Linked DNA regions of Homo sapiens: region 1 is linked to region 2. The links come from fine-mapping of genetic effects on gene expression. A gene starts in region 2. The other region holds a variant in brackets. All regions are shown on one strand. Distances are from middle to middle.

What was found. PIP is the estimated chance that this variant, and not a neighbour inherited with it, causes the effect.
Region 1: its variant is the best candidate, but not a certain one, in a credible set for the expression of FAR2-AS1 in whole blood (TOPMed, PIP 0.78).

The regions. Positions count from the first base shown.
Region 1 is chr12:29,244,993-29,247,924 of GRCh38, forward strand. All of the region lies in intron 1 of FAR2 (fatty acyl-CoA reductase 2), which reads left to right. Among named protein-coding and RNA genes, the nearest start is that of FAR2-AS1, 71 kb to the right of the region's middle. The variant A/G (reference allele first, on the strand shown) is at 1,523.
Region 2 is chr12:29,316,397-29,319,328 of GRCh38, forward strand. FAR2-AS1 (FAR2 antisense RNA 1) reads right to left here and starts at 1,452. Exons shown (of 7, transcript NR_103860.1): 1 at 1,312-1,452. It overlaps FAR2 (fatty acyl-CoA reductase 2), which reads left to right. Exons shown (of 12, transcript NM_001271783.2): 9 at 445-616.

The DNA.
Region 1 (2,932 bases), 71 kb before region 2:
TTTTTTTGAGATGGAGTCTCACTCTACGGCCATGCTGGAGTGCAGTGGCATGATCTTGGCTCACTGCAACCTCCGTCTCCCGGGTTCAAGCGATTTTCCTGCCTCAGCCTCCCGAGTAGCTGGGACTACAGGCATGCGCCACCAGTCCCAGCTGATTTTTGTATTTTTAGTAAGAGACGGGGTTTCACCACGTTGGCCAGGATGGTCTCAATCTCTTGACCTCGTGATCCGCCCACCTCAGCCTCCAAAAGTGCTGGGATTACAGGCGTGAGCCACTGCGCCTGGCCCTGTCTGCCCTTTTAAAGTAAGTCTTCCCAATAATATTGTTCTTACTTTACAAATGAGGAAATAGCAACTGGTATGGCCTGTCATTTGCCTAAGATCATAGCTAGTAAGTGGTAGAGCTAAAATTCAAACCCACATCTGCTTTATTTATGTGTCAGTACTCATTAAATTAGTCATCCCCTGAATCAGAATGGGGTTGGGCTTGGGGGGTCTCCAAATCTGCAAGTTTAATAAGTAAACTTCCCAGATGGTTCTTTCTGATTTGCGTTAAAGTATGAGAACCACTACTCCTTGCCCCAGTTCAACTCCTCAATACCTCTGGCCTGGATCATTGAAATAGACTCCAGATGTGTTTCTTGTCTCATTCTCAGCCTCTTCTGGTCATTATAATTTTATTGCTCAGAAATATCCAGTCCCTATAAAAATCTACCTCTTTATGCTGGCATTGGATTTCCATCTTCTGTTGTCATCTATTCTTCTAGCCTGGGATTCTTTGCTTTCCTCCCAGGAACTAATTTCTACAGCCATACTTTGCACTTAGAATACACATCGGACTTTCTCATCTCCCCTTGCTTTCCCAACATCACTACCCCAAATACCTTCTTGCATTCCCACATCTCCAATAATACTTCTTATTCAAAACCAGCTTCACAATACACAAATGATTTACTATTCATCACTAAAAGGAGCTAAAATTCCTTCCTATAGTCACCTTACTATTTTAATATTATATGATATTGTTATACATAATATGCTATATATAATTATATAAGTATAGCTAGGTATATATAGTTATAGTTTTATATTTTTTTAATATATACATCAAATTTTCCTTTTTACTATCATGGTACATGGAAATTAGGATGCTTTGAGATCTAACCCTTTCATGCCAGGGTAATACAATAAGTTTATTAATCATTGGTATGCTATTCTATTATCTGTGCATGCATTTGCACTATATTTTTAAACATCATTTAAAAAGCCATTTGTTTCAACTTTTAACACTGGAAAGCAAGAACTCAGAGAAAAAAAAAGATCAAGTTTTAAAAACTTTCAGTTATTGATTTGAAAAGATATCTCAACATTTCACCTCTTCTAATTTCACCTCTTTCTGACTGGAGGCAGGCCCTCAGAAAATAGGCAGGAATTTAGACTTGGAATTCTTCTGTCTTTCCCTTAGCTCCACACCTTTACAATAGCTTAGAGTGAGATACACAGAAATCAAAAGGAAATCAAA[A/G]TTCACTTTAGATCGATAAACAAAATAAACACAGATATTTGCCCTATATACAAAACAGGTCAATAATAAATTGCATCAGCATATAAATTCTAAAATAAAGGGTCAAATTAAGAACTATATCGCAGAGTGTAGACCATAAAACAGCAGACTTAATAATATGAAAAAATTAAATTCTTGTATTTTTAGTCTTATGTACTGTAGCTACTACTCACAGTTTAACACTATTAAGAAGTAATTTTTGCAGATCTGTGAGTACCTTCTCTTAAAGACAAATGCCTAAAACTTTTGCTGATTTTTAAATAGAATTGCATATTACCAGAGAAAAATAAGTATACTATTTGAAGTTTATTGTTCTTCTAACATGGAACAAGTTCCTATGGAGACAATTTTGGTAGGGAAATTATTAGCTTTAATTCATCATTTGTTCTTCATAAAGAACTAATAACTTTATTAGTTATTTCATAATTCATAATATTTCATAATATTTCATAATAACTAATAACTAACATACAGAACTAACTGCATATTTCCAAATCATGTATTTACATTTACTCACATATTTCCTAAGAGACTGCCAATTTATTGGCACAGGTTACGATCAGTAACTTCCATTAGGAAATAAGGATTTCCAGTTTACTATATTATATTGATTTGCACATAATTAACCTTCATATTAACTTTTTTAGGAAATGTAACTTTCCACATGGTTCAAGAAATAATTACTTGATATGTGGCAGTGACTAAGCTCCTGGAGTCTCACTGTATGAAGCAACTAATGCTGTGCCTTTTCTTCTGACAGATACAGTTAATAAATACTGTGTCTAATCATTGACATTAACAAATTCTCTTAATCCACATATCTGCAAAAGAACAATGTGTTTTTATATCTAGGCCACTATCATCTTTTGGTTGCAAACAGTAATTTGTGCAATGATGTTGTAGCAGTTTTTCAGTGTTATTCCATGAATCAATAGTCTTCTTGGTGGACTTAGTTTATGGTGCTGAATCAATCTCCTTTTAAGCAAGGCCTTGTTAAAGGTCTTCACACATTTAAACTATTTTGTTTCCACTTCATTTCCTTGGTTGAATAACACATTGAGATACGGTTGTAAGAACTAGGAAACAGAAATTACCAACTTTATTTCCTTGGTTGAATAACACATTGAGATACAGTTGTAAGAACTGGGAAATAGAAATTTCCAACTTTATTTCTAAACTCTGCATGGATAAACCTGTATAAGTCTCTTAACCCATAGGAGTGGCAGAAGAAATGACCGTATCTTGTGAGAAGAAATTAAGATATTTTTCATGCCATAGTAGTACAATAAGTTTATTAATCGTTGGTATGCTATTCTATTATCTGTGCATGCATTTACACTACATTTTTCAACATCATTAAGTAGCCATTTG
Region 2 (2,932 bases):
TTTACTTAAACCTTTAATAAAGATTCAAATAAAATGTTAAGAAACTTTCTAAATGGTTCTGAAAGTAATGGTCCAGCCAGGGAAATAAGGTCTCTCGCCTCTGTCTTGGGGCTTTCAGAATAGACTGGATGACCTTAGAATTAAAGGCAGATTCATGTTTTTCTGAACAGTACCTCCTTGTATTGACAAGTGTTTCCCCAATAGTTTGTTTTACAGTAAATGCTTCAACTAAAGAATCCAATTATTAACCCATTCACACTGTTTCAGTTTGCAGATAACCATTTGCCCAGCACAAAAATCTTTATATTGTTCTCAGAAATTGATTCTTGACTCTACACAGCAAATCCTTCGTCTTTATTGTTTTGACCCATTACAAATGCTTTCCACTATGATGGACTTATATTCTCCTTTTCTCCTCTAGCACTTACTTTCTTTTTTCCCCAGGAGTCCAAGTCTTGGCAACCTTTGAAAAAATCCCATTTGAGAGACCTTTCAGGAGGCCAAATGCTAATTTTACCAGCAACAGCTTCACATCACAGTACTGGAATGCGGTCAGCCACCGGGCCCCTGCCATTATCTATGACTGCTATCTGCGGCTCACTGGAAGGAAGCCCAGGTGAGAAGCTGAGTCAATGGCTTTGAGAGTGTCACTGCATGGGAGATTAAGGCCCCAAAATCTTTAGTGCTTCCTTCAGCCGAGGATTAAAGGAGACAACTGAATCTTACCCATATATACAGATTGAACACACCTAATCTGAAAATCCAAAATCTGAAATTCTCCAAAATCCAAAACGTTTTGAGTGCTGACATGATGCCACAAGTGGAAAATTCCACATACCTTACCTCATGTGATGGGTCACAGTCAAAAGACATTCAAAACTGTTTCATACATAAAATTATTTAAAATATTATGTAAGATTACCTTCAGGCTCTGTGTATATGGCTAAGTGTGTATGAAACAGAAATGAATTTTGTGTTTAGACATGGGTCCCATCCCCAAGATAGCTCATTACATATATGCAAATATTCCAAAATCTGAAAACAATCAAAACCCAAAACACTTCTGGCCCAAGTATTTCACATAAAGGATACTCGACCTGTATAAGTTTTGAACAAAGCAGTCATAGTGAGAAGCCACAAAAGACATTAAAAATGTTCCAGCACAATAAAGGAAGGTAAATGTTAAAGAGGTTGATGAATTCAGCAAGTAATCATTCATGCGAAAAGAAAAGCAATTGAGACTCTGTCACTAGGGTTTTCTGAATAGGTAGATAATCTTAAATATACAATAATGATGACAACCTCACTTACTGAGAGTTTACTGTGGCACTCGTGGGGCTAAGGCTGATGCATGATGATCCCATTTTCATTGTCACAGCTACCCAAGGAAGATGTCCTCATCATCCCAATTTTACAAATGGGGAAATAGAAGCTAAGGAAAGAATCTGAATTAGTCTCAAAGGAAGTGACAGGAAGGATGTGGAGAAAGCCGAGTCTCAAAGTCAGTATTCGGAACCAGATTTACTGCCACCTAGAGATGAGTGAAGAAATTAGAGGGAACACAGTGTGCTGATGCTAAGGCAGCTGTCACCACCTAGCTGTGTGACACAGGACATACGCCTTTATCTGTCTCGCTTGAATAATATTATGTGTCAGAGGAGTCATTGTTATAATTGCCTAAGGCAATTCTCGTGATCAAGAATCAGAAGTATGAACAGTATTGCCTTCTGTGCTAGCCCCTTTATAAGGGAGGAAGTCTTCTTCAGCGTGTTTGTCATCTTTATTAGCAGTGCAAATGACTAAAACTTAGCCAATGTAGAGTTTATCTAAATTTTTAAAGACCTCATTTGGAGCTCATAACTCAGTTCTTGAGCAAGGTGAAAAGGAAACATTGTGATTATGGGGAAAATATTTGTATGGGGCTTATTAAATAAAGACAGGAAAAGAAGAAAACCCAAATATTGTAGGCAGAAATGCTAAAGGTTTTAAAATATATCAGGATTGGAAGAGGGCCTGCATAAAGAACAAAGTTCAGTTAGGAAAAAAGAGAAACACAGAAGGAAGAGACACAATAAAAATCTATATGTATCTTGTGAGAAGTCAAACAGTAATATTTGTGGGAAATGGGTTGGTTTGTTGTGTGGTATGTATTTTAGCAATAATCTTTATGGCAGAAAAAGCTGAAATCCTTCTAGACCCTTTCCTGCTCCAGGTGTGCTTGTGTATACTCTCCTATGCTTTTACATCCATATATGGACGTACATAGTTTGCTTTGCAGTAGGGGGGTATGTGTGTATATAAATCAATTGTACATATTTTACAACTTTTTCCACTAATTTTCCATGAAAATCTAAGTCATTCTGCCCGGTGTTGTCTTTTTTTTCTACTGCAAATAGGGCAATGAATATCAGTGTGCATGCCTCTTTGTAGAATGTGCCTGTGTCAGGAGAGGATGCTGAGGAGGGAGACTGCTGGATTGAAGAGTATGTGGAGTTTGTGACTAGTGCCAGGTGACCCTCCCTAAGGAAGAGACTGTCAATTGGCACTACCACAACAGTGTATGAAGGGTACAAAAGTCTTTTTTTTTTCTTTTTCTTTTTTCTTTTTTTTTTGAGATGGAGTCTTGCTTTGTCACCTAGGCTAGAGTGCAGTGGCGAGATCTCAGCGCACTGCAACCTCTGCCTCCTGGGTTCAAGCGATTCTCCTGCCTCAGCCTCTCGAGTAGCTGGGATTACAGGCGCCCGCCACTGTGCCTGGCTAATTTTTGTATTTTTAGCAGAGATGGGGTTTCACGATCTTGACCAGGCTGGTCTCGAACTCCTGACCTCAAGCAAGTCACCCGCCTCGGCCTCCCAAAGTGCTGGGATTACAGGCATGAGCCACCGCGCCCGGCCAAGGGGTACAAAACAGTATGTCTTACCCTCTTAATGGG